7 separate regions of the Homo sapiens genome follow, and regions 1, 2, 4, 5, 6 and 7 are each linked to region 3. Evidence: fine-mapped expression QTL. A gene starts in region 3. Each other region holds a variant in brackets. All regions are shown on one strand. Distances are from middle to middle.

Region 1 (4,078 bases), 33 kb after region 3:
GGGAGCGCCCCACTTTCCCACAGTGCCTCTTCTGCCGACCACCTGCCTCACTCTCTGCCTCCCCCTGCTTATGTCCTGGAGAATTCCATTTTCTGGACTCTTCCAGTTTCATTCTTGCCAGGCCTGAAATAGGTATATAAATTGCGAAGATACTCAGTTCTCCCAGACTTTCCTCTCAGTCCCCATCACCTTTGGGTCAGCAAACTTTTTCTGGAAGGGCTGATAGGAAATGTAAAGATGTTAGGTTTTGCAAGCCATGTACACTCTCTAATGTACGTTATTCTTTGGTTTTGTTTTGGTGGTTGTTTTCTAACCACCCCCAAAGATGTAAAATGCATTCTTCGCTCACCAGCCAGGGCACAAAATCTAGCTCTGGGCAGACCCCCTGCTCAGGAGCTCCACAGACTGTCCACAATGCCCCGTGCATGGGGTGGGTGCCCGATAAAATACAGGACACGTGGTCAAATTTGAATTTTAGATAAACAACAAAGAATTTTTTAGTATAAATATACCCCACGTTTTGCAAGTATTCTATCTGCCAGCCTTCCCGTGGAGGTGACATTCAGCTGCTACTGTGTGCTGGGCCTTTTAACTGAGCGTTCCCAGGTAAACTCGTAACAAACCTGCAAGGCAGGTATTATTATCTACATTGTATTGATGGGAGAAACCAAAGCTCACCATGGTAAAGGAACTCTCCCAAGGCCATAGAGGTGGCAGAGGCAAGATTCACACCCATCCCTCATTCCAAGCCCACTTCTTTCTCCCTAGCACACCTCCTCATTCTAACTGGCCAACAGAGCTTCAGAGAGGTTAAGTGACTCGCACAGTCATACAGAAGAATGATGGCATTAAGCATGGCCCATCGTCTTCCCACAACAAAGAGCTCCATCATGAGCTTGCTGGAAGCTGTCGGAAAGGTCATTTAGTTCAACTTTTCCACTGGAAAGGGGCAGAAGCCCGGGCTTATCCAACCTCCTGGTGCCAGCCAGGTGCCAATAGCCTAGGGGCAGGTGTCTGGGTGTTCAGAGTCACAGGTGTGTGGATCACTTCCTAGCTTCAGAGTCTGTTTTGTCCTAACTTTCTCTGACTCAGAGTTGGAAGACCCAGCCAGGGGAGTGTGTGTGTGGCGTGTGTATGGCGTGTGTGCCCATGTGCATTTGTGTGTGGTGTTTATGCGTGTGTTCATGATGTGCATCGGTGGGGTGTTTTGTGTGTGGTATGCTGTATGTATATGATGTGCCTGTGGTGTGTTTGGTATGTGTCTACGTGTGTATGATATATGTGATATGTGTAGGTATGGCCTGTAGAGCGTGTGGATGTGGTGTCTGTGATGGTATGTGTGACATGTGTGTTGTGTATATACGTATTGTGGAAAGATTGTTGCATGTGTGTTGTGTGTATGGTGTGTAGTGGGTGATGTATATGGTACCTTTAAGGTATGTGTGCGTGTACATGATGTGTGTGTGTGTGTGTGGTGTATACATGATTTGTGTAGTGTATGGTGGGTTTACTATGTGTGTATGTATGGTGTGTGTTGTGTGTGTATGTATGTCATGGGGTGTGTGTCATATGTGCTGTGTGTGGGGGGAGTCGGTGTGTGGAGGGAGGTGGATGCTGAGGTAGGGCAGGGGAGAGAAGGACCCCTTCAAGTGGAAAGCTATTTGTGTTCCTGCCGCTGGGCAGAGGCCAGGCCACGCAGTCCTGAGCAAACAGTTCAATTGGATTAGCTTCGTCCCCACCCACCTGGGTCAGTGGGTTCGGGCTGGGTTGGGGGAAGGTGCTAGAACCCAAACCTTGAACCCCAAGACCTTTGTGCCCATTAAGCCAGTGGTTTGTCGCTTCAAAGACCTATTTAGCTTCAAAGACCCCAGTTTAGTGTCTGGTGGGGAAGGAGAGAAAGCAATGAGGCCTTCGTTACGCTGGGGAGAGAGGCTGGGGGAGGGAGGCTTTGGGAGGGAGACTTAGGGAGGGAGGAGGATAGGAGGAGGACAAAGTTGTTTTCCAATGCTCTTCCTCTTCCTCAGCCTCCTCCACCTGGTGTTGTGCATGGATCAGCCAACAGACTCAAAATTGGGGTGTCCAGATGGGAGGGGAGGACAAGTTTGCAGGATATAAGCTTCTGGCTGCAATGTTCTCTTGGTCTTTGGACCTAACATCGTATCAGTAAGGGAAGGTGGCCCTAGGGTAGGTGGCACTACCCCCAGAAGCTCCTGAAAGCACCCCCACCAATCACTTTCAGTCTCGC[A/AT]TTTTTTTTTTTTTTTGAGATGGAGTCTTGCTCTGTCATCCGGGCTAGAGTGCAGTGGCGTGATCTCGGCTCACTGCAAGCTCTGCCTCCTGGGTTCACGCCATTCTCCTGCCTCAGCCTCCCGGGTAGCTGGGACTACAGGCGCCTGCCACCATGCCCAGCTAATTTTTTGTATTTTTAGTAGAGACGGGGTTTCACCATGTTAGCCAGGATGGTCTCGATCTCCTGACCTTGTGGTCCGCCTGCCTCGGCCTCCCAAAGTGCTGGGATTACAGGTGTGAGCCACCGCGTCCAGCCTCAGTCTCACATCTTAAACCTGCATCCCATATTGCTTGTTTCCAGGGGACAGGAAGGATGCCGTGGACCTCCTTCTCCCTTGAGACTAGCACAGCCCCCTCTGTGCCACTCCACCCCAGGGCAGCACCTCCTGACATGGGAGGAATCGGTTCTGTAACCCACAGTCAAGGAGTGGGCATGCCCAGGAGGCTGTGAGTTTTGGGGTGAAGGTGGTGAGGGGGAGACTGGAGATCCTGGGAGAGCACTCACGGGGCTGGCCTCTCCCGGTTCCCTTTCCCAGGCTCCAAAAATAATAAGACTTGTGTGACTTCTGAGTGAGTCGCTCTTCCTCTCAATGATTTTATCCATAATGATGAGTGCATGGCCTGACCTCTTTTCTGCCCTCGTGGTGGCCTCTGACCAAGCCCTGAAGAGAACCGAAGGGGTCAGGAGCCAAGAGGGAGGGAGGACAGGACTGGAGCAGGCAACCTGGGGACCAGGTGGTTAAACCAGTCCTCCCTGCCTGGGGCTGAGCCTCAAATGCTAAGTGAAAGTGAGGTCCTCAGGCTTCCCTGGGGGCCCCAGGGCAGAGTGTCAGAGCCTCCTCTGACGGCCCCTGAGAGGGGCAGAGAGGTCACAGTTACACAGTCCTGAGCTGGAGGCACAGGAGCTCCAAAGAGCTCCTGTGCCCCCGATGTTTCCGCATTTGGGGCACAATTTCTCGACCCCGGCACTATTGATATTTCGGAACAAATAATTCTTTTCTGCAAGGGCTGTCCTAGGCATTGTAGGAAGTTTAGCAGCATCCGAGCCTCCACTCACTGGGTGACAGTAGCATGTCCCTCCCCTCCATTGTGACCACCAAGGAATGTCTTTACACGCTGCTCATGAATGTCTTTACACGCTGACATTGGCAAAATCATTCTCCATTGAGAACCACTGATTTAGAGCCAGAAAAGTATATGTATAGTTTTTTTCTGGCTTTGTCACTTTTTATTTGTCCTATGTCTTTCTATGTTTCGCTCAGTTTTTCCTGTCTTACTGCCTCTGTCACTGTGCAATAGTATCTCTGCTCCCTTGCTCTTAGTCTCTGTGGTGAGGGGTGTGTGTGTGTGTGTGTGTAGTGTGTGTGTACATGCATTGCATGTGTGTGGTATTTTGGGGGTGTACTGGTGTATTTCTATAGTGTGTGTGGTATTTTGGGGGTGTATTGGTGTATTTCTATAGTGTGTGTGGTATTTTGGGGGTGTATTGGTGTATTTGTATAGTGTGTGTGGTATATGTGTTGTGGTATGTCAAGTGTCAGTGTGTGGCCTGTGGCAGTGTCCCCTGGCCTCTTGGAGGGCGTGTCCTTGCTCTCTGCTCATGAGGGATGGAACCAGCAAGGGGTAGTGAGGTCAAAAGCATTGCTTACTCACTCAGCTTGGAGTTTGTTCCAGTCACTGGGTTCACCAGCCGTGCGCCAACTCATAAAGCCTGCAAAGGAGCCCATGACAGTTAGTGCATGCACACACACACACCTGCAGACACACACACACCTGCAGACACACACATGCA
Region 2 (4,078 bases), 27 kb before region 3:
AAATTAAGCTGAAGAAAGAAGGTGATAAATATCACAGGAGAAATTAGTGAAATGGAGAACACAAAACCAGTAAAGAAAAACCAAAGTAACCAAAAGTTTGTTATTTGAGAAGATCAATAAAATCGATAGGGTGCTAGCAGACTAATCAGGAAAAAAGAGAGAAAATATAAATTACTCATATTAGGAATGAGAGAGAAGGTACTGCTACAAAATCTACAGGTATTAAAAGAATGTTAAAGGAATATTATAAACAACTTTATGTCAAAAAATTTTGAGCAGAATAGAGAATCCAAAAGTAGATCCACACATATTTGGACAACTGACTTTCAACAAAGCTGAAAAGGCAGTTCACTGGGGAAAGAATAGTTTTTCAGTAAGTGGTTCTGGAGCAATTAGCTAACCATATGCAAAATAACAATAATAAACCTCAACCTTGCCTTATACCAGCAACACATACTCACTCAAAATGGATTATACATTTAAACAGATTTGCTAAAACTATAAAGGTTCTAGAAGAAGACATGAGAGAAAATCTCAGTAATGTTGGGCTTATTAGTGATTCTTAAATAAAACACAAAAAGCATGAAGCATAAAAGAAAAAAGCTGAATTTCATCAACATTTAAAACTAGATGGTGAAAAGATAACACTAAAGGAATGAAATGTTTGCTGGGTGCAGTGGCTCACGCCTGTAATCCCAGCACTTTGGGAGGCCAAGGCGGGAGGATCACTGGAGGCAGGGAATACAAGACCAGCCTGTCCAACATGGAGAGACCCCATCTCTAGTAAAAATACAAAATTGGCCGAGCGTGGTGGCACATGCCTGTGGTCCCAGCTGCTCGGGAGGCTGAGGCAGGAGAATTGCTTGAACCCAGGTGATGGAGGTTGTGGTGAGCCGAGACTGTGCCATTACACTCCAGCCTGGGTGACAGACAGAGACTCTGTCTAAAAAAAAAAAAAAGAAAGAAAGAAAGGCACAGGTCCACACAAAGACACAAATTTTCATAACAATTTTATTTGTAATAGTCAAAATTTGGAAAAAATCCAATTGCCTATTAATGGGCGAACTAATGCTGAAATTGTCATGTATCCACACAAAGGAAAATTAGCAATAAAAAGAATGAACTATTTAAATTTAAAACAACATAGATAAATCTCAAAATAATATGATGAATAAAAGTAAAGAAACAAAAAAGAGTACATAGTTTATAATTGCATTATATTAAATTCTAGAAAACACAAAGAAATCTATAGTAATAGAAGAAGCACTCTATCAGTGTTTGTCTGGGAACAGCATGGAGAGAAGGATGGAATTATAAAAAGCCACAAGGCTATTCACAATAGCAAAGACATGGAATCAAACCAGGTGCCCATCAATGGTAGATTGGATCAAGAAAATGTGGTACATATACACCATGGAATGGTACGCAGCCATAAAAAAAGAATGAAATTATGTTCTTTGCAGCAAAATGGATGCAGTTGGAGGCCATAATCCTAAGCAAATTAATCCAGGAACGGAAAACCAAATATCGCATGTTATCACTTAAAAGTGGGAACTAAACATTGAGCATACATGGATATAAACAATGGAACAATAGACATTGTGAACTACCAGAAGGGGGAGAGAGACAAGGGGAAGTGTTTTGAAAAACTACCTATCAGGCACTATCTTCTGTACCTGGGTGACAAGATCTGTACTTCAAACCTCAGTACAAACCTCAGTATTAGGCAATATTCCCATGTAACAAATCTGCACATGTTCTCCCTGTATCTAAAATAAAAGTTGAAATTTAAATAAATAAATAAATAGCGGGCCACAGCAAAACTTTTGGAGGTGATGTGTAAGTTCATTACATTAAGTTTTATGATGGTTTCCCAGGTGTTTGCGTATGTCAAAGCTTACCAAATTGTACATTTTAAAGATGTCTATTGTTTGTCAAGTGCATTTTAATAAAGCTGTAAAAGAAAGAATTATTTTTGATACAGTGTTAGGACAACAGAAAACCACTGAGAAAATTTAAGCAAGAGAATGTCAATAATTAATGCCACATTTTAACTAATTAACTGCAATTAATCACAATCAATCAGTAAGAAAAGGTTTTGTGCTGAAGATTTTCCAGAGAGATAAGTAAGCAAGTATATCATGCATGCAGTGGAGCAGGGCAGAGCCTCATAAAATCCCTCTTAAACGTGTCTGTTCTTTTGCCAAATTTCCATTCTGGTTGCCAGCTACCTTTTTCCTCCTCTTTCTTTCCACAGCCACTGCCATCCTCATTATAGCCCCAGACAATTCAGCTCTTGAAAGTGTATCCAGCAAAACAAAAGTGTAACAGCAGCTCAGCACCACTTGGAAAGCAGTTGCATAGCCAC[C/A]TCTTTCTCTACAAGCTCAGTCCTTCCTGAGGTTGCCCTCTCACCTATTCCCCTACATCAAAAGTGACTCATCAAAGTATTCAGTAGACAAAATTAGTCTCTATCCAGGGAGAATTCACTACTTGGAAAGTAAGATGTTCTGTTTCTCATTACATACAAAAAAAAAAAAAGTTGATAAAATCACAGAATTCAGTTTGAGAGAGAGGAAGATACTAAATGTCATTTGTCATTCTGACCTTGAAGTCACATTGAGTCCAATTCAATCAGAAAAGTGCAAGTGAAAATTTGGATTTTTAATGAGACACCAGGACTAGAAATACTGACTTCAGGGGTCATCCGCAGAGAGAAAATAGTTGAAATGTTTGGAATGGATGAGATCTCCAAAGCAACAAGTGAAGAAAAAGGAACAAAGGTCCAAAAATAAAAACTGTTGAACATCCACACTTATAGGTAAAAGGAGGGGAAAAGTAAGCTTAAGAAATTAAGAAAGTAGTTCTAGAGGGAAGACAAGAAATGGGATGGTATCTTGGAAGTTCAGAGGAGACTGTGGGTACAAAGAGGTGGCAGCAGGATTTAAAAGAACTTTAAAAATTCAGTAAAATTAGGACTGAATGACTTCACCGATGTTGTTGACTAGAGGAGGAGAAAGTAGCAGATTCAGAGCACTCATTTGACAAGTTTAGGGGCAGAGCGAGTAAGGGAGAGGTTAAAGGGAATGGTAGAGTTGAATACAGTCTTTTATTCCAACGTATTTATAGTCTGATTATATAGAAAGCCAAGAGGAAGAACTACATAAAGACAGGAAAATTGAAGATGCTAAAGAAAGAAGATATTTGAGAAACAAAGAGGCATGTGGATTAATTATTGGACATCAAGAAGGGGGAACTTTTTTCCTCTGAAATAGGAAAAGAAGAGAAAATGCGTAAAAGATAGACCTGCACTGAGGAAGGCCAACATACATACAGAAAGAGGCTAGATCTAATGATCGGTTGAATGTAATGTTTTTAAAAACCCACCATTTCACCCATCAGATTGGCATAATTAAAAGAATCAATAGTATCTGATGTTGGCAAGCATGTAGGGAAATAACATGCTCTCATGCACAGCTGGAAAGTAAACTGCAACAGTCTTTATGGAGGGTAATTTGGCAGTGTTTATTGAAACTCCACATGGCCGGGCGCAGGGGCTCACGCCTGTAATCCCAGCATTTTAGGAGGCCAAGGCGGGTGGATCACAAGGTCAAGAGATCGAGACGATCCTGGCCAACATGGTGAAACCCCGTCTCTATTAAAAAAAAAACACAAACATTAGCTGGGCATTGTGGCACGTGCCTGTCGTCCCAGCTACTCGGGAGGCTGAGGCAGGAGAATTGCTTGAACCCGTGAGGTGGAGGTTGCAGTGAGACGAGATCATGCCACTGCACTCCAGCCCGGCGACAGTGCAAGACTCCGTATCGAAAAACAAACAAACAAAAAAACACAAAAAAAACAAAAACTGCACATAACATTTGACTCAACAACTTACTTCTCAGAAACAATTCCATAAAAATACATGCATAGGTGGGCAGAAAATTTTGCCAGGACTTCTGTTATAGCCTTATAAAGGGCAAAGTATAGGCAATATGTAAATATCCATCAGTAGAGAATTGGACAGATAAATATCCATAACATACATTTTAACAACAGTTAAAATGAACAAAATAGAACAAGA
Region 3 (4,000 bases):
CTCAGCCTCCCAAAGTGCTGGGATTACAGGCATAAGCCACTGTGCCCATCCACATAGAAAAAGTTTAAATATTATTTTTTATTGATTCATTCTATAACACTTCTAAGCACCTGGAGTGTCCCAGGCACCAAACAAATTATAGCAAAAAATTTACATTAAACTTTAAAAAGGAATTCATTACTTTGCTTTTTAATAGCTGCAGGTTGCAGCATACTTTAACAATGCATTCTATGCTCTCCACCTACCATTAAAACTTGGTTTGATAAGACATAGGCAATTAGGATGCAAAGCCGACTAATCACAAATTTAAACCTCTTTGCATCCTGAGTATGACACTTCCTTTGAAAACTAGATGCCTCTCAAATTTTATTAACAAGACAAATATAACTAATTACACAAGCCTTGAGCAGCAAAAACTTCATTTCATATTATAGTCACCTAATATGAGGTATATCATGAAATAGAAAAGAAGGCAGATATTTTTACTGTTATGTCAATACAGGATACGTTGCAAATTACTACAGGAATTTCTGGGTTTTATAAAGTAACAACTACGGTTTGGTTTTGTCCATATTTTTATTTTAACATAATCTAGTTATGTGTCTTTTTTTTAAGTTTTCAATATAACCATAGATGTCTAGCAATCAGGCATGTTAATGTATGAGTTACGTAATTCCACACACAATGCAAATTCTGTTTCTTTGCAGAAGTCTTTGAAAGCCTTGGAGATAACCAGAAAATGAAGGAAGCCCTCCACCACTGAGTTTCAGGGCAAAGGGAAGAAACAAGATAAAGTAGAACCGTCAGTACAAGTGGAATTATTAATGACGTCCAAATGCAGTCATTAAATACTATCAGACTTATTTATTGACTCCTGATATTAAGAGTGAACAAACCCCTGGCCAAGTGGGAACTTGCTCGGTAGCCTTTATCTTTCTATCACTCATTCAGTCAATTCATTAAAGCCTGTTTGTCTCTCCCAGGTGACTCTTACTGAGTTTCATTGTTTTGTTTATTGTGTTTGTTGGCTCATAGATCTCTTTCACAATTTTCTTCGGCTTCTGAATGCTCTTTAAGTACCAGTTTTGATCAGCCCATTTGCTTTAATAAACAGGAGAGCAAGATGGGACAGGGCGATACAGGGAGAAAAGGGGGCAAAGGGAATCGCACCGGGTGCTTGTGCTCCCTAGAAAAACCAGCAGGTGGTAGCAACACTTCGTGGCAAGGCCCCAGCCCAGCTCTGTAGGACCCAAACAATAGACCCCAAATCCCCGTCCTCGGCTAGAGAAGGGGTTAGAGGTGGGCGGAAACACTTTTCCTCGCGGCGCCCCCTCGGTTCCTCAACCCTGCCTCCAGGCGCCAGCTGAGAGCACCTTGCACCGCCCCTCCTCACTGCAGGGAGGTTCTCTCCGGAGCGCGGGCGAGGGAGGAGGCACCCAGAGGTGCAGCGACTTGCCCAAGCCATGTCAGAGCCAGGCGTACAGCAGCGCTTCCCCTTTTCAACCCGACTGCCCTGCCCCTTGGGGAGGGTAGATGGAGGGAGGTTCGACTCAGAAGCCCCAACGTTGACCAAGATCCAGACACGAAAAGAGAAAAGAGTTCCCGGCTAGCACGGCGACGCTTTCATACCGAGACGCCCCCCTCTCCCGCTGCCTCGGCTCCCCCTACCACCGCCCGTACTCTCCCAGATTTCTCAGTTTGTCTTTCCCTCCACCCCCTGCTTTTCCTTCCTTCTCTCTTGCTCAGCTCACGCCCACCTTAGTTCCAAGCTGAGTAGGAGCCCCACTGTTTTAGTTCCTAGAGTTAAAGCCGAAGAGGAGGGAGGCGCGAGGGGGTGTGTGCAGGGCTCTGCCCTGCCCTGAACTGCCACGGTCCGCCAGTTGCGCTTCGCTCCGCGGGTGTCCGACCCAAGCCGAGCCCGAGCCCGAGCCCAGGCAGGGGCTTTACAGACAGCCTCTTCCCTTCCCACTTCCTGCAGGCGCCCCACGCGTGCGATCCTCCCGGCCAAGACCCGCGGGAGGAGGCCGCCCCCTTCCCGGCGCACAGGCGGGGCCCCGGGCGCGCCCCGCGTCTCCCCCGCGCGCCGGGGCGGAGGAGCGGGCGCCGCGCACTCACCGCCTAGGCCGGGAGGGCGGGCTCGGCTCCCCGGAAGAAGGGAGTGGGAAGGCGGCCAAAGGGGCTGAAGGGGCGGGCCGGGCCGGCTTGGGAGGGGACGCGGAGGGGGCGGGCCGGGCTGCGTTCGCTCCAGCCGCGGCTCTACAGCAGCGGGCGGCGGGACCCGGGACCCAGCTTGGCGACGGCGATCTCGACGCGGGCCCCCAGGATCTCCCGGCGCCCCACCTCTGGAGCAGCCCCTGCCGCCAGCGTCAGGTCCACCCCGGAATCCCAGGGACTCTCGGCGCCGAACGGACCCGGGCCGGGTGCAACGGGGTCCCCGGACTGGAGAAGACGCGGGTGGCACCGTGCGAGCTCCAGGAGCCCCGGGTCCACTGCGAGGCCTCGGGGGGCGCAGACCTGCAGAGACTGCGGCCAACGGGAAGGTGAGCCCGCGGGGTTAGCAGGCGGCGTTGTGGGGGTCGGGGACAGTATGCTTGGGGACAGAGGAATTAAGGTTTGCAAGAGTAGTGGGGCTCCTCAGCCCCTAGGTGGCTTCCTGAGGGAGTACTGAGGATCCTTCCTCAAGGCCAGAGTGGGGTTCATGAAGGGTGAGGAAACGGTCAACCTGGCTACTCCCCTCTCACTCCACTCTGACCTGGCATCATTGACACCGCATTACCCTTGCTGTTAGGATCCCCCAGTTGCGTTCCCAGACATTCTCCTCTGGCTCTGGCTTGGGAGTCCTAATCTGGGAGGGTCCTCGCAGAGACGGAGCTCCACGCTTGGAACAGGATTGCCACCCCTCTGACTCCAGTGGCATCACTCCAATCCCCTTGGAGCTGGGAGGAGTCAGGAGGCTGACCACACACCTGTCCCCTGCTCCCCACAAGGCACTGTCCCCCCCAGCTCCATGACCACAGTTAAGCCTTGGAGGTGGAAGGAACGCTTGGTTCCTGCTGCCCAGCCATCACCCCCAACGTGCAACCAAATTCTATTGCGTGCTCCTGCCCCAGCTCCACCCTCGCTCTGCTCCCTCCATCTGGGTGCTTGGCCCTGCTTGCCCCACACCCCCACCCACCGATCTTGGCCGTCTGGCACCCTCTCTCCTCCCATCCCTGGGGGAGCTGGCATGGACCCAGCATAGCAATGTTGTAATGTCCCTGGCAGCGCCCATGGAGCGGAGCTGCTGGGTCTGTTCCCAGTTAACCCAGGCCCTCCGCCCGCCAGGGGAACTTGACTGAGGCTCTAGGAGGGGAGATGCTGGTCCTGAGCTGAGAGACCAGTGGGAGGGAGCTGTGTGGGGCTGTTAGTAGACCACAGAAGCTGCCCAAGTAAGGGGCATTGGAGCATTGAGGCTTCTGAGTGCTGCTCAGTGGGGCCACTTGGCTTTTCAGAGCAGTGGGCCTTTTTTCTCAAAGGAAGATTAGCGTGGGGGTGTCTATGTACTTACCTGGTGGCCTCAGAAGGAGGACTTGTTTGGAGTCTATTACTCCATTCAGGGTGCAAAAAGATGGTTGGCAATGACACTGAGTTACCAGAATGCTGGGGAGCAACAGGCTGGGGTGGGCTGAGCATGGGAAAGGCAGGATCCTCCTTCTGGGACGGCTGTTCTGCTATCACTCTGTCCTGAGCCTGGGCCCTAGACCCTGAGTTCCCACTCTAGGTAGAAGGAGGATGGCAGGTTCTGGAGGGTTTGGGAAGCCTCAGGTTTCCCTTTCTTTACCCACTCCTCCCCGCCCCCCACTTGGCTCCCTCTCCCAGCCCAGGTGTTTCTGCAGAAGTACCTCCTGGGGCCAAGAGCAACTCACAGCCAGACTGGGGGTAGAGCAGGGGCCGAAGGTGAGGAAGAAGGGCCCATGGAACCACTCCGGAACCAGCACTGATGTGCATCTTCTGCCACAGG
Region 4 (4,078 bases), 73 kb after region 3:
TGTAGTAGTTTTTGCTGGAGGATGGTGATGTCTCGAGAATGAGTGCGGTTGCCACCACGAAACTTAAGGGGGCGGTAGACGCAGCACGTAGTAAAGCAGATCATGTAGAGCAGGTACAAGGCAGCCAGGATGCAGAAGTACGGCCGGCCATACTTGTTCCACTTGAAGCTCACCAGCTCCTTCACTGGGGTCTGTTCCAGAATTTGGCGAGCCTGGCATGGAAGTAGAGTGAAACTTGGGGTGACCAACACAGAAGGATGTTGTTTATCCCACTGGGGGCCAGAAGAGGCAGGGCAGCAACCATCACTCACTCAGCTCATCAGTCACTTATTTGACGGACAAATAGTATATTTCCTGCATATGGCTGGGCCTTGTGCTAGTGATACAGGTAAATGACTATAGCAGTAAACACAAGGCACCATAGCACCAAAGAGGATTTAAAGGATGAGTAGTAGTTAGATGAGTAAAGGGAGAGTTAGGAAAGATCATACCATAAGCTAACAGCAGTTGCCAGGTCAGGAAGGTCTGAGAAGCCATTGCCCATTTGCAGTTGAGATGTGGTTGGGGAGAGGGGAGAATCTATTGGGAGTGGTAGTCAGAAATGATAATGACTGAGGAAGAACAGGGCCAGGTCATCATGCATCATAAATGCCAAGGTAGGAAGTTTGCATTTTTTGTTTTTTCTAAATATAACAGAAAGCAACTGGGGAGTTCAAGCAGGGAAGTGGTCAGATTTGCTCTAGAAGTATTATTGGGCTGGAAAGAAGCAATGGAGGTTACAGGCAGTAGGATGTGGCAGGGTGGGATGGTGCTCTGAAATAAGCAGCCAGTGAGACGTTAAAGATACACAGGAGAGGGGATGATGGACGGGAGGAGGCATCTGAGAAATTAGAAAGAGACAGATTCAAAGCACAGTAGAGTGATTAGCCATTAACAGCATGAATATCTTTTCTACTGAAGCTGGAGGGGAGGAGAGAGACAGTGGGCAGTTTCCAGACATGCTCGGCAGTGTAGGGCAGGAAGCTGAAGGATCCCCAGCCAGAAAGCCTCTATTTTTGTCCTAAATCAGGAGTCTAGGTCTTCTGAACTGCAGCTGAAGGTAGTGAAGGATGTGAAAGGGGGCTAGAAAGGAAGATTTATGGAGGAAAAAAGCAACTGACCCAAGACACTTATGAAACCTGCTGGAGAATATTGAGAATAGCTTAAATCAAAGACCAAGGATATGTGGTGGCGAAATCCACACAGTGGGATTGTGCTTTTAATACCTAAGAAATCCTGCTCAAAGTGTATCTGTTTCCAGGGATATTCTCTGAGGAAGATCTCACAAACTAGCCACTCAACTTTTCTTCTATTCGTTAGTATTAATAATCATTCATGTTTTCTGGATCTATAAGGATTCCTGGGAAATTGTCACTGTGGCAGATACAAAACAGAAACTACATCTTGGCACTCTCATGGAACGTTCTGAAACCTGGAAGTCTTTTCTCCTCTCTACTGCAGTCTTCAACAAATTTTCGTTTCCCTCACATCACTCAACCCAGCATTGTTGAATGGTCTATACGTTGCTCCCTCTCTAAAAAGCTCTTTTTTTTCTCTCATCTTCCTGTGACTCCCAATTCTTCCTTGAAGATCCAGCCCCAGCATTTCCTCTGTGACATCTTCTCTGGTCTATCCAAGCCAAGTTAACTCTACCTCAATGTGGCTGTCTGCATGCATGGTACACACAACTATTACGGCATATGTCATGCTCTGTTGCAATTATTCAGGACAGGGACTGAGAATTGAGGAAGTTGATGAACAGGAACTGTGTTGTATTTATTTCTGTACTGTTTGTTTCTTGTGCAGTGCCTGACATACAGCGGGTGTTCAATATGCTTGTATTAGTCCATTCTCATATTACTATAAAGAACTACCTGGCACAGGGTAATTTATAAATAAAAAGGTTTAATTGGCTCATGGTTCTGCAGGCTGTACAGGTTCTGGAGAGGCCTGAGGAAACGTACAATCATGGCAAAAGGCCAAGAAGAAAGCAGGCACATCCTACATGGCCGGAGCAGGAGGAAGAGAGAGCAGGAGGAAGAGAGAGCAGGGGGAGGTGCCACACACTTTTAAACAACCGGATCTTGTGAAAACTCACTATCACGAGAACATCAAGAGGGAAGTCTGTCCCCATGATCCAATCACCTCCCACCAGGCCCCTTCTCCAACACTGTGGATTACAATTTGACATGAAATTTTTGCATTTGGACACAAATGCAAACCATATCAATGCTGAACCAATGAATGAATATGAGGAAACAGCTCTTATTTGGAGTTTCTCATCTGAAATGATAGAAGGCGAAAGGTAGGCAGAAGGGACTGGAGCTAAGCAGAGAGACAGGGGATTCAGGAGAGGAGTGTGCATTGGA[CT/C]TTCCCCCATGTCCCAGGAGACTATTCTCATCTCCACCTATTATAAGGCTGGGAAGTGTCTCAGGCCCAGGATCTTAGTAAGTGGACAGACTCTGCACAAACACTAAATTCCCTCACATGACAGGCCTGATCCTCCTTGGCATCCATACCTCTCGTTTATCAGAGGAGACCACAAGCTCCAGGAAGGACAGCTCCTCTCCCCAGGAGTCGATCTCCGTGAGGTCGTAGAGAATGGAGGTCAGGGGTCCATACGTCCACTGGATGTGCCTCCGCTTCTGCATCAGGTGCTGGAACATCTGAGAGACCACCAGGATGAGTCAGGGGGCCAACGTGTGAGAAGGTGGTCGAGGAGAACAACTCCATTGGATGGAGCCAGTTGCCCACCCCTTGAGACAGACAGACAGTGGGAACCAGCAAACCTCTGCATCTACAAGCTTTCCCTTTTTTGTCATCTTTCCTGCTCCAAAACCCCAGAAAGTGCAGAAAGAAGAAAATAGGCAAAGGAAGCTAGAGCTTTGGGTTATCACAGCACATGCATTAAGGTAAGGTTCTCAAATCCTCTTGAGTCAAGGACCATGAAGCTGAAGATTTCAGTGATGGAATAGGAAGCAAGGGACCACCATCCCTTTGGGGAGTTTGGGGAAAAGGGATTTTAGAGAAAGGTGGGCCCTTCACCTCTATTTCTCCCAGGGCCAGCAGGATAGGTTGAGGGTCATTAGAAAGACACCTCAGGGATGGGGAGCGTCTCTTACCACAGTGTTACCCTCCACTCCAGCCAGCTTGAAGGGGGTGAGACCCTGGTGATTGGGCACAAGGTCCAGGGGCTGCAGGTGGTCCCCATGTCCATCATAGGACAGCAGCAGGTTGTACATCTGGCAGGCAAAGGTTTTGTTGGGCTGGAGGATGAGGATGTGTAATACTGTGTTTCCTGGGGAGGACGCAGGGTATCATGTGGCCACTGGCCTAAAGTCCCTGATGTCCCCATCCCCACTCTGGGGTCTTCCTAAAGGTCCCAGCTCCACTCCTTACCCTGTCCCTCGCTCCCCACAGCATCCCAGCTCCCCTCCCCATCCCAGCTCTTACCCAGGGAGTCCTGGGCCCTGATGTCAGCTCCATGCTCAATGAGCAGCCGCACGATCTCCTCGCTGTTCACACAGGCAGCAAAGGACAAAGGGTGCTCCCCTGTGGACACAGAGAGATCCATGGCAGGAGAACGCAGGATGGCAGGATGGGGTGGGCAGTCTCCCCCAAATAAGGGCCTCCTCCTCATCCCCCATATCTCAGTTCTAGGCTGAGGGACACTCGTCCAGCAGAACCAGAGGAAGGAACCATCAGGGGAATGGGCCTCTGGCTTAATTAAGCCCTAGAAGGGCTGCCCCTCTCAACTGCCCAACAGATGGAGCTGAAGGCAGGACCCTCATGCCCTGGCCTCCCTCTGCCTTGCCCGCCTCTCCAGCCAACCATCCTTCAAGCCCAACCCTGCTCTCACCAAAGTAGATGAGGTTGCGGGGACTATGGCGGAAGGCAGTGCCTGTGGCTCTGGCAGAGACACTGGCCCTGCGGGTGAGCAGGGCACGCACCAGGTTCACATTCTGGTTCACAACAGCGATGTGCAGTGCAGTCTGACCTGGCCCAGAGACAGCCATCATCAGGGTCTCCCTCTGTCCCC
Region 5 (4,078 bases), 38 kb before region 3:
GTCATTACCACATGTAGACAGCAATGTAATCCTCCTTCTTAGAGATGCTGCAGCAGATTGGAGGGTGAAGAGATGTATCAGTCAGATCAGAGTAACCAGCTGGCTCCTGGCTCCTGATCATTGTCACAGCTCAGTAGCTGGAAGCTCCTTCCATATGGCTGATGCCTTTAAAAAAATCTCCTCAATCTCCATCCCCATCTGCAATACTGTTTAGTTATTCAATCATTTAAGTCATTCATGTATTGAAAAGAGGATGGGGATATGATCCCTCTGCTCTGTGGCAGTAGATCTACTAATGGGAGAGTCCTGGCCGCACATCTGGCCTGGGTCTGGAGGTGCCCTACGGAATTGAAAGCTGGCTGGAACTGTCATCTTAACATGTCCTGGTCATCTTAACGTGTCCACCTCTCTGGCAAGCCTCTTTTCAAGTCTTTTTGTTACCATCTTCAGCTTTTTCCCTCCATACTAGATTCTTAATGAATTGCTGCCAACAAGAGAAAGCTTTATACATGAAGAGAATGGCAATAAGAACTAACTCGTCTTTTTAATTTTAAAACTGGTATATATTCCTATATAATAGGAATGGAAGATACTTGCAAAGCCTATTTGTTCCTCTACAGAAGAGTTAAAAATTACCTGGGCTAATGGAAAGAAGGGAGAGTCAGCCAATTAGATGCTCCTGAATGCCCTGAATTGTGACTTACCTCTTCTTATCCACATCCTGATCAAGGAAAGGGATGAGAGAGAGGTGGAGAGAGAAGAAATGGAAATTCAAAAGTTTTGACGGCAGAGGAAAATTGTGCTTATTTCCAGAATGAGACGAACAAGGTCCTGGGTCCCTACATGTCATACTGGCTAGAGACTGGTAAGTAGAAATGACTTGTGGTCAGCAGAATAATGGCTCCCAAGGATGTCCACATTCTAATCCCCAGAATCTGTGCATGTGTTAGATTACATGGCAAAGGGGAATTAAGGTTGAAGATGGAATTAAGGTTTCTAATTGGATGCCCTTAGAACAGGGAGAGTAGTCAGAATTAATCAGGTGTGCCCCATACAATCACAAGCATCTTCAACATGGAAGAAGGAAGCAGAAGAGAGTCAAAGAAAGAGATGTGGACATGGAAGCAGGCAAGAGAGATGCCATGCTGCTGGCCCTGGAGGTAGAAGGGGGCATGAGCTAAGGAATGAAGGTGGCCTCTAGAAGCTAGGAAAGGTAAGGAAATGGGTTCTCTTCTAGAGCCCTCAGGGAAGAATGCAGCCTAGCTGACAGCTTGATTTTAACTCGGTGAAACCTGTGTCAGACTTCAGAGTTACAGAACTGTAAGATAATAAGTTTGTGTTGTTTTAAGCCACTAAGTCTGTAGTAATTTATTAGAGCAGCAGTGGAAAACATACATGGCTCTAGAATGTGTCTTAACAGAGGGACCTGAGGTAGTCTCCAAGAATCCCCAAAGATCTCAGGATAGATCAGGAATAGCCATTTTCTCATTCACAGGGAAACAGATTAACTGAGAGAAGCCATCAAGCCTGAAGAGACATCGTGTTTGAAATGTGTAAGGCACAGTGTACCCGCCGTGGATCAAAACAACCTGAAGGACAGACAGACAGACACACCGAGGATCAGCAGATATCAGTGGGGACAGGTGCTGATGATGGTGCAAATGAGAGTCATGAAGGAAAGTTAAATGATGACCAAAGACCAAGTACCTTCCCCACAATGCTTTGACAAGCGCTTTTATAAGCACCCTGGAATTTAGACACTACCCGGGGAGAAAAGGAAAGGGAGACAAGCATGAATTGTCTGAGAAACCCCTGAATTAATCATGTGTACCCCAATGCAACAAGGATCTAGATATAGAATAATTTTAATTATAGAAAACAAAATTATATTTTACCCACCCATATTTGATGCCCATGAATTTCACATCTACCTTACGTGCACATAAAATTCAAGCTTAGATAGACGGAAAACAAAAAATCAAGAAGCAATATTTGCCTTCTAATAACTTATCTATTGGAGGAGGTAAAAGATAGAAAAGTAGTTCAGATGACAAATACTAAAAGAGTTAGGAACTTCTGCTTCCACTTACGATGAAGGAACTTGTACTCAATCCATCCACTTTGTAATT[C/T]TCCTTGAGCTGCTGTAATAAAGTACCACAAACTGGGTGACTTAAAACAACAGAATTTATTGTCTCATGGTTCTGGAGCCTAGAAGTCTAAAATCAAGGTATCAACAGAGCTATGCTTCCTCTGAAACCTGGAAGGAAATTCTTCCTTGCCTATTCCTAGCTTCTGTTGATTTGCTGGCAAATTTTGACATTCCTTAACTTGCAGCTACATAACTTTAAACTCTGCCTTTGGCATTACATGGCATTTTCCCTGTGTGTTTCTGTCTTCCCACGGCTGTCTTCTTACAAGTACATCAGTCATATTAGGAGTCCACAGTGCTCCAGTATGACCTCATCTTAACTAGTCACACTTGCAATGACCCTATTTTCAAACAGAGTCACATTCTGAGGTACTGAGGGTTGGGATGTCAACATATCTTTTTCTGGGGGGATGGTGGGTATAATTCAATCCATTATACCCTCCAATAATAAACACCTAGAAAACTGGGCAATATACGTGAGATAATTGTTTTCTAATATTGGACAAGAGATGGCACAAAACTGTGATCCATAAGTGAAAGGAGACAAATGAGGTGCGTGCTGTGATCATTTCCGTTTTCTACCCAGAATTTCCTGGGTTACTGTACAAACAAGAGGGACCCAAGCAGAGCATGGCACCCTGAAATTCTTACTGAGCTGAGGACACAGCTCAGAGAAGAGGAGGCCATGCACGGAAAGAGCCCCGCAATTTTCATGAGGTCTCATTGAGTCTTTGGGTAAATACTAAGCTGGCATCCATTGGGTGAAACTCCACAGGGGCAGGCAAAGAATAAGTACTGGAGAATTAACAACTGCTGGTGAACTACAGTATGAATAATTACTAGATCTTGGTCGAGGCTGAGAGAGATACAGCTCTGAGCCATCAGAATAGCTTTGTTGAATACCTGGAACATTGAACAGGTATCCCAGGAAGCCCATAACTTAGAGTAGGACTCAAATGGCATAGAATAAGTCTACCGTCCATTAACCCTAACAAAGCTTAAAAGAGCCCTTGAAAGGAAAAGCAGACAAGTTGACCTGCAAGCAAGTCAACTGCCCACTAGAATAAAGCTCAACACTCTTTGAGAGAAGAAAACAAAATTCAGATAATAAAAAAGTAACATTCATAATGTTGAGCATCCAGTCAGAAATTATGGGATATACTTAAAAGCTGGAAAATGTGTCTATGCTAAGTAGTAATATTAGGCAATTGAAATCAACCCAGAAATGGCAGAGATGGTAAATTAAAATAATGGGACTTATAAATGGCTAATATACTAAAATGGCTATTATTAAATATGTTCAAGGATTTATAGTGAAACACAACATAATGAAGAATGAAACAGAAACTATAAAAAAGCTAAATAGAACTTCTAGATCTGAAAAATATCTGAAATGAAAATTTTGCTAGATAAGCTTAAGTTGGAGTAGACACTATAGGAGAAATGTCTATGAACAGGAAATCAGGACAACAGAAACTGTCAAAACAAGAGAGAGGAAAATAAAGCTAAACAACTACAAAAACTGGAAGAGGTCTCAGGGAACTCCCAAACAATATCAAGCCACCTAGCACACATATCATTGGAGTCTTCAACATAGAGGAGAGAAAGTGGTGGCAGAAAACAATTATTTTTAAAATAGTGGCCAAAATGTTTCATACATGATAAATAATATCCACCTACAGATCCAGGAAGCTTAGCAAAACCCAAGCAGGATAAGCTCAAAAAAGTTTGTTTATGAAAGAGATTACTTTCAGGTATGAGGCTCAGTTTAACTTTCACATAAGAGACAGACTCTGAGATGGTCCTTGAGAAGTCATAGGGTTTTAGACTGATAAAAATGACATTAAAAGGCAAGAAAGGATGAATGGTACAGAAATGACCAAAGGTACAGAGGCTGAAAGTACAGGACATCGGTGAAGAACAGTAAGA
Region 6 (4,078 bases), 43 kb before region 3:
TCTTGCATGAATAAGAGCAGATAACATGGAGGATGTTAATTTGTTCTGCTGAATTTAGGTGGCTTTCAAGCCTCTCCTTCAATGCTCACCTGTCTCTAGGATGCTCTGTGCAATGATCAGGACTTTTTTTCTTCAGATTCTCTAAAACTTACAATATTCACATAGACCTGCACATTTCTACACAAACTGACTCTCCTGCTTGCAATGTCATTTTGCTTATATAACTATTAGCCTCCTAAAGAGCTAAACTTAGCTACAATTTTATGTCCTTTGTGAAGTTTTCCAGAATTTTTGCAGTATATTACAGGAAGGAAAAATCTGCCTCAAGTCTCTACTAATTCTACTTGACTAGTGGTGATTGCCTGAGACATTTCTCTATTAATGAGGATTCTGAAGCTGTATAAAGCCCCTACAGAATCAGCATCTGAATAGGCACAGCATAGGGTTCAAGTTTCATGGTTTTGCCATCCAAGCATGTTTAGCATTTTAAATATTAATATTTATTACATACTTGTAGTTTATGATTTGAAATTTTTTAACTAAGTCTTCCTCTTGGGTAAGTTGTAATGAAAATAATCTTGTAAGCTTAAGGAGCGGAAAATAATACCTGTTGAAAATTAGAGCTTGTAATAGGGCTTTATAAACACCATCTCATTTAATACACATAACAATTCAATGAGGCAAGTTTTATAGGTGGGGAAAAACTTGAAACTTAGTAAAATTAAATAACTAGGTCAAGTTCATAACAACTAGCAAATTTTTAGACTACAAAAATCAAGTGCTTTGACTAAATCATGCTATGACTGTGCCCAACACCATCTCGAGTACATTTTATTTTTCTTTTTAATCCTCAAAATGACTCACTGTGTCCAGCAAATAATAGCTGCTTAATACATAGGTGATCCTTAAAGTTCAGTAGGGACCCCTGGGCATTATTCCATATGTTCTTGATCACTCTGTGTCTACATCTCAGATTTTCCACTTCAGATTAAATGATACTAGAAATATGCACGTGTCTGGATTGATCTAGGTTAAATGATGCCCGGAATGGAGTATTTTAAGACATCTTGTGCCCCCTTGTGGAGGGGAAGGGACATTAGAAAGAAAATCTTTTTAAGAACAAGGACTAGGGAGGGATGGGGATGAGGAAGGAAGCTCAGTTGCCAAGGTAACCATCGAACCTCTTCCCAGCCATCCACATCAGCCTTTTCCTCTCCTTCATTTCCATCCAAGTGATTTCTCTTTTTTAGAGCTCAACCATTACACACACGGTCCTCTTCTTGCGTATCTCTTGGATCACCATCTGTCTGTCTTTGCTACAAAGGAAGGGCTACAAGATAGTACAACAGGACATTTTTTAAAACCTCAAACATCACCAAAATTTCTAAGTGCAAGCTTATTTTTATTTTTTTTTTTTTTGAGACAGAGTCTCGCTCTGTCACCCAGGCTAGAGTGCAGTGGCATGATCTTGGCTCACTGCAACCTCCACCTCCCAGGTTCAAGTGATTCTCTTGCCTCAGCCTCCCAAGTAGCTAGTATTACAGACGCCTGCCACCACGCCCGGTTAATTTTTGTACTTTTAGTAGAGACAGGTTTCACCATATTGGCCAGGCTGGTCTCAAACTCCTGACCTCAGGTGATCCTCCTGCCTCAGCCTCCCAAAGTGCTGGGATTACAGGCATGAGCTACCACGTCTGGCCTAAGTGCATGTTACCTATACTAACAAAACCACACTTCTGCCTCGAATGAGAACAGTCTCCTGAACATCTTGCCTCTTTGCCTGACTCAAAGCCTCAGGTCTAAGCCTCCCCATAATTTCTAGTCTCAGCAGAAAGATCAATGACAGGAGACTCTCCAGGTGATGAAATTAACCAATTAAGTAACCTGGGTTGGCATCCTCCCGTTTGTTCACCAGCTCACCTCCTGCCACAGGTATATCCTTTCTCTCAGCCATATATGCACAAACCCCCTCCCCACGGCACACATAGAAGAATTTGGAAGACTAGAAAATCAGGCAAGGTATAGCACACCTTGAGGGCTGGAGTATGGTAGCCTGGGCCGGGACATCCATACATTGAGAACTTGACTATGTGCAGGCAAATCACAGGTTCTGCACACATACAATTTTTTGTTCTCCCTGAGAACTTAGTAGAGTCTTTTGTAGAATTCTCGCTTTATTCCATTGCTTTCACATTGGCCAGCAGTCAGAAACCTACTTACAAATATCCTCCACCCAGTCCCTAAGTGAAGGCCCCTGGGGAGTATGGTTAGGGCTCAGGAGAGGGTGGGGTTTTTGCACAGATGTCTGCCCCACCCAGCTCAGTGTGACACTCCAGGCACAGAGATAGAAGCCAGAGTCACTGAGAAGGAGCTTCTTAGAACTCAGGATGAACTGCCGGTCCTGGGGTCTGGAGGCTGAGAGATTCTGGGGCACCTCAGAGCTGATCTGGCCAATACCAACGGAGTAGAAGAGCAGCTGGAGGCCCCTGCCTGCAGCCTGTC[G/A]GTACCAGTATAGGTTGGGGTTTGATGTTCCCTCCACAGTGCACTCCAGAGAGAGCGGGCTGCCCACAGGCTGCACCAGGGTCGCTGGCCATTGATGAATAGTCTGAGATCTGACCCCTGTGGGAAAGATAAAGTGCCATTTACAGAGGAGCACCCCAGCCTGGCTTGCCTTCCCCAGACAGAGGGGCAGCTCAAGCTCTTGCATGACACAGGCACCTGGAATCCATCATGGGGAGTAGACTGGGGGAGCCAAGGATGCAAAGCATCCCTGGGCCAGGGAAGACCAACAGAACGAACTCCTTCTCAGGAGATAGAGAGAACTAAGAATCATCAGATCAGCCCCTAAGGCTAAATTCCCATATCTGTTCCAGACAATCAGGAATAGACTCAAGAGTGTCAAACCAACAGCTCAGACTCTGCATTCACGGGATTGGGGTGAGGGTGAGGATGAGAAAAGAGGCTTGCCAGAGAGGAGGGCACCCACCAAAGAAAGTGCCCAGGAGAAGGGCAAGGAGAGAGCAGAGCATCATCCAAGCCAGCCTTTCCTTCAGCTAGTCTGGGGGACAGACGCCTCCTCTTCTGGGCCAGTGATGTGGTCAGGCTGCTCCCTCTGGGAGATCTGCTGCCAGAGCAGAGGAATCCTACCCCATGAGCTGGGGAGGAAATGAGGCTAGTCTTCTTTTAAGAGTGTGGTGAATCACCCCCAGCCTCCCTGGGAACCAGCTATACTCTGCACTTGTTATCTTCTTTGCATTCCTGCTGACATCCTGGTATGTAAATATATTTAATGACTCATTATTTACCTGTAAACTAAAGGTAACTCTCCAGCTCCCCCGGGAGACATCAGAAGCCTGGGAAAGCTTCAGAGAAACTGTGATACTGATAGAAGGATGAAAAAAGATTTTAGTTTATCTGAAATTGGAAACTAGAGCTAGACATGTTACCTGGGAGATGAAAGGATAGGGCTCAAGAGATTCAGGTATTTTGGGGTAATCAAAGCAGAAATGCTCAGTTCTGAGGGCAGGAAGCTTCTATGACAGCCAAAGGGATCGCCTGCATAATCTTCATCCCTGGCAGACAGATTTTGAGACCTGGACAGGCATAATTAACTCCTGAACTGATCAAAGTTGGAATCTGCTCCATGTGTCTCTAATGGGCCAACTAGATCTAATTTATCCTCTAAATGCAATATGAGTAATAGGAAACATCACAGAGACTTGGAATCATATGGATTTGGGTTCATTTCACAGCTCTGCTTCTTGCTGGCTTGGGAACTCTCAAGCAAACCCTGATTCTCAATTTTCTTATCTATAAAGTGAAAATAATGATGACAATATCTAAAAATTGTTGAAAGATGCATTTTGCCTGGTGCACTGCAGGCAGGCACTCTTACATATGTTGGCTTTTTTTTTTTTTTTTTTTTTTTTTTTTTTTTGACTCCCTATGTCTGCAGCAAAGATTGGGAGATTTACAATGGCATGGGGTGGAAGGTAGGGGCTGAAGGGATCACGAGCCACAAAAAACACAGTCAAGCCACGAATTCATAATAGTAAGGATTCATAATAGCTAAGCATGG
Region 7 (4,078 bases), 54 kb after region 3:
AGACTGTGAGCCTCAAAAAGCAAAGATAAGGCAATTCAACAACAACAAAAACCTAATTCGAAAATGGACAAATAAACTGAAAAGACATTTCTCCAAAGAAGGTATATAAACATCCAATAAATAGGTGTATAAAAACGTGCTCAGTATCATTAGTCATTAGGGAAAGGCAAATCAAAACTACAATGTGAAGCCACTTCACACCCATTAGAAGGGAATGTAAAATGGTGAAAGCTATTGTGAAAACCAGTATGGCAGTTCCTCATAAAACTAAACATAAGAATTGTCTAGCAATTCCATTTTTAGGTGTATGCCCAAAGTATCTGAAAATAGAAACTAGAACAGATATTTGTATACCATATTGATAGCAGCATTATTCACAACGGCCAAAAGGTAGAAAAAACTCAAATGTCCATTGGTAGATGAATAAATAAACAAACTGTGTCAAATTTTGGACTAAGATTGCAGAATCCCACTTACATAAGATACCTAGAATAGTTAAATTCATAGACAGAAAGCAGAATATTGGTTATCAGGGACCAGGGCAGAGAGATAGCTGGAGAGTTATTGTTCAATGGGGATTAGAGTTTCAGTTCCGAATGATGAAAAAGTTCCATAAATGAATAATGGTGATGGTTACACAACAATGTGAATGTACTTAATGCCACTGAATGGCACATCTGAAAATGGATAATATGGTAAATTTTATGTGACATGTATTGTGCCACAGTAAAAAATTAAAGAAGGCAAGAATAAGGAGACTTTTTTATTGCAGTTGGTGTTTGCTTGCTAAGTGGAGAGAGAGACCTACAGGAGGCTGGGAAAAAAAGAAGGGCCACAACCTCTATGCCATGCCTGGCTCTTCCCACGTAAGCCCTGGGGAGCCAGAAAAGCCTCACAGCTTACTACTTTCTAGGGGCTGCGTGGGGCAGAAGAGAAATGGTCCTGACATTAATCTAGCATCCCTGCCTCATGTCTTTAGTTGCCAACCTCCTTTTTCCTGAGATGGGTGACTTGCAAGAGCCCAGAAAATACGTGAGACAATCGATGACCATTGCCCATTGCCAGAAATTCTGATGTGAAGTGTGAGGCATGACCCTTTAGGGATTGTTCTGTCTCACCCTCCCATGATTAACAGGCACAGAAGTTAGACACTTGCATAGGCAGAGGTCTCCGTCTCTGTCCCCGCCCCCAGGCCAACCGGGAGTAAGGTCAAGAGTGATAGCGATGTTAATCAAAAATGGTAGACCTCCTCTCCATCCCCCTCACTAAGGTTCAGTCCAAGATTCAAGTGCCCCAGGGTGTTTTGACGAAGGATCTCCCAGCCTCGGTGACTGCTGCTCTGGGACGCGGTCCGGGACAGGGAGGAAGTTGGAAGAGCCAAAGAGGCTCTGGCTAGAGTCCCACTCTCAGCCCCAGAGGGCTGTTTCTCAGATGGATGCTCCTGGTCATCCTCCTTGTCTGAGTTCTTGAACACTTCCACATAGCGAAGCACTCGCAGAGGATTCTGATCATTGTGGTTCTCAACCCTGATAAGGGGAAAGGGGAAAGGACTCAATCCAGGT[G/C]GGGAGACATGGGCAGGGGAGAAGTAGAGGTGACCATTTAGAAAGCAGGGTCAAGAGGGAAGCAGAAATAAGGCAGCAGAGTTGAAACAGGAAGAGTATCTGGGATCAAGTGAAGGGAGGTGATGGAGGGCAGGCTAACCTGGGATAGAGATAATGGAGGCTGAGCAATCAGGGCTTGCAGGGTGGTAGGACGCACACAGGTGTGTGTGTGTTTGTGTGTTACTAATACGTAGGAATGTGAAAGAGAAAACAGAGCCAACTAATAGATAAGCGTGTCACAAGGATGACGAGATGCAATTCAGGAAGTAAATTTGAGGAGAGAGGAGAGTCACGCCGGGAGATGAGGGCAGAATATGAAGGAGGAAGTTAGATCCAAGCCAAAAGTACACTGGAGATGAAGGTCAGCTCAGAACAAGGTTACAGCAAGTCTGGTAACCCATGCTGACGTCTGAGCATGGACACATGCACACAACCTTTTACACGTGGCTGCCCTGAGGTACACACAGCATTCTTCGTACCCCTCCACTTCAGCTCCAGCCCCCTCCCCTAGACAGGCTAATGTAGGCTCCAGGACGCCTGTCGGTCACCCTTGCTTCCGTGGCCTTATACACATCTGCAGTTTTGCATGTGCACACCATCACTCACCGCAGGAACCAGCGGTCCCCCAGCCCGAATTCGCACCCACAGATCCCGGAGCGAGGCCACAGGCAGCGAGGCAGCTTCCGCTCCAGCATCACTGTGGTGGCCACGACCTGGAAGGAGGCAGGAGATACAGGAAGAACTCTGAAAGAGCCATGAGGTTCAAAGAGGCACTGAGGCCACTGATAAAGGGAACCAAAGGCAATCTGTGAGATAGGACACTAGAGGTCAGTGGTGAGAACAGCCACCTATTCACCCCACAGCCTGTGCCAGGCACCATGCAACCAGCTTCACTCATCAAGAAATGAGAGAGGATTTTTTGTGAGTGTTTTGAATAAAATAGTTGCCCTTACATTACTATTCACTCATGGAGAATGAGTCACTCCAAACTAATCTCAACTTCTTTTTCATATAAAAGCCACAGACCAATTATCTCGATTTAAATAAAATGATTAAAGAGAATCTCTACGATCTTGGGGATGAATTGATACTGTTACTGTTCAGGGAATTTTCAGCAAATTAAATATCCACATCTTAGGAAGGAAAAGGGTTGATTAATGACTGCAAGTTGGCAGGGAAATTTCTGGTAGCAAGTCCACCACACGTTCTGTCCTTTGCTCAGCCCTCATTAATTACTTAGATGAAACATGGGAAACAAGCTTATCAAATATGCCTGTGACACAAAACTGGGAGGGATATGTAATATGTGGGGCAACAGAAGCAATATAAAATTATCTCGCTAGATTGGAATGCTGGTGTAAAATCATTAACAAGAAATTTAAGTAAACCAAATCTAAGGTCCTATATTTACATTTAGGAAGCTTAGATAAGTGAGTCATAGAACAAAGGTGTGGGAGTGCTAGCTGATCACAAGCTTAATAAGGGCCATTTGTATATTTGCTAAAAGACCTGACTCAGCTTTAGGTACCCTTAGCATTATGTCCAAGTAAGGAAAGGCATAGTCCCGCTTTGTACCGCATTGCCCTAATCATACTGGGGACTATTCTAGTTTCAAAGAAACCATGATCTATTAGAGCATGGACAAAAGGGTGCAATCAGAATAGATCAGAACCAGGAAGGCTTCCTAATTGAAGGAGTGCAATCTTCAAAATAGCAAATTCTTCACCTCATGTTTTTCTACTCCCTATCTTCCTCATTACTCCACACTTCTTTCAGTTTCTTAATTGCACCAAGTTCCCTCCTAGCTCAGGACTTCCAGTCATTCTGTGCTCTTACCCTGGATAGCTGTTCTTCTTTGCCTTGAAAGAAATGTTTATTGTTCCTCCTGAGCCATCATGCAGCCCCGTCCTTCCTCGGGTAACAGCACCCATTTTTCATTTAGGGAATTGCTCCCTCATCACTTTTAGTGCATTGGTTTGAGTGGACTGGGCTTCACACAGTTGTGCTTAATTAATCTATTTTCCCCCAAACCTCCCCTCCACCACCATCACCAACACCTCCACTATCTAGTCCTTGGTCTTTCCTTAGATTCAACGATGTGCCTATGACCCGAATGTGTTCCCATGAGATGGAACATGGAAGGAATTGGCAGGGGGAAAGATGTTCTTTTAAAGCCTGCAGTTTTGCCTGGCACCAGGAGCCTCACAGAATACAACGTGAGTGGGGCCCTCGGAGCTGCGTGTTGCATTGCACATCCTCATTCTTTTTGGAGTTTGGAGCTTCTAGAAATGATCTCACAAACACGATGGGAGAGCTTGCCTTAGAAGAGAGGTCAAAAGAGAGCCGAACAGAGGAATGGATGTAATGTATAAGATGTGGATCTGCATTCTGGCCAGATACCTCTAAAGTTAGTTTAATTCTCTAAACTTCCCATTTATGAGGACTAACACATCCTCTTCCCCCTGTTTAAAAATCTG

Alleles and levels. Positions count from the first base shown, and alleles are read on the strand shown. Sizes are in standard deviations (SD) of each study's normalised expression. Not every link is listed here.
With allele AT in place of A in region 1, the expression in skin of the gene that starts at base 2,231 in region 3 is lower (moderate effect, 0.44 SD a copy in TwinsUK).

What was found. PIP is the estimated chance that this variant, and not a neighbour inherited with it, causes the effect.
Region 1: its variant is fine-mapped to the expression of EPHB6 in skin (TwinsUK, PIP 0.93).
Region 2: its variant is fine-mapped to the expression of EPHB6 in blood mononuclear cells (TOPMed, PIP above 0.99).
Region 4: its variant is fine-mapped to the expression of EPHB6 in whole blood (INTERVAL, PIP 0.95).
Region 5: its variant is fine-mapped to the expression of EPHB6 in whole blood (TOPMed, PIP above 0.99).
Region 6: its variant is fine-mapped to the expression of EPHB6 in whole blood (TOPMed, PIP 0.94).
Region 7: its variant is fine-mapped to the expression of EPHB6 in whole blood (INTERVAL, PIP 0.98).

What each region holds. Positions count from the first base shown.
Region 1 is chr7:142,886,086-142,890,163 of GRCh38, forward strand. No RefSeq gene overlaps it. Among named protein-coding and RNA genes, the nearest start is that of TRPV6, 2.4 kb to the left of the region's middle. The variant A/AT (reference allele first, on the strand shown) is at 2,246.
Region 2 is chr7:142,825,925-142,830,002 of GRCh38, forward strand. No RefSeq gene overlaps it. Among named protein-coding and RNA genes, the nearest start is that of EPHB6, 27 kb to the right of the region's middle. The variant C/A (reference allele first, on the strand shown) is at 2,369.
Region 3 is chr7:142,852,846-142,856,845 of GRCh38, forward strand. EPHB6 (EPH receptor B6) reads left to right here and starts at 2,231. Exons shown (of 20, transcript NM_004445.6): 1 at 2,231-2,540.
Region 4 is chr7:142,925,530-142,929,607 of GRCh38, forward strand. TRPV5 (transient receptor potential cation channel subfamily V member 5) reads right to left here. Exons shown (of 15, transcript NM_019841.7): 4 at 3,899-4,036; 5 at 3,493-3,591; 6 at 3,162-3,337; 7 at 2,559-2,705; 8 at 1-212. Among named protein-coding and RNA genes, the nearest start is that of TRPV5, 6.2 kb to the right of the region's middle. The variant CT/C (reference allele first, on the strand shown) is at 2,409.
Region 5 is chr7:142,815,261-142,819,338 of GRCh38, forward strand. LOC105375541 (a long non-coding RNA gene) reads left to right here. Exons shown (of 2, transcript XR_001745392.2): 1 at 1-865; 2 at 1,496-2,176. Among named protein-coding and RNA genes, the nearest start is that of EPHB6, 38 kb to the right of the region's middle. The variant C/T (reference allele first, on the strand shown) is at 2,130.
Region 6 is chr7:142,810,259-142,814,336 of GRCh38, forward strand. LOC105375541 (a long non-coding RNA gene) reads left to right here and starts at 3,939. Exons shown (of 2, transcript XR_001745392.2): 1 at 3,939-4,078. It also overlaps TRB and TRBV30. The variant G/A (reference allele first, on the strand shown) is at 2,503.
Region 7 is chr7:142,907,283-142,911,360 of GRCh38, forward strand. It overlaps TRPV5 (transient receptor potential cation channel subfamily V member 5), which reads right to left. Exons shown (of 15, transcript NM_019841.7): 14 at 2,208-2,314; 15 at 819-1,526. The coding sequence ends at 1,232. Among named protein-coding and RNA genes, the nearest start is that of TRPV6, 24 kb to the left of the region's middle. The variant G/C (reference allele first, on the strand shown) is at 1,563.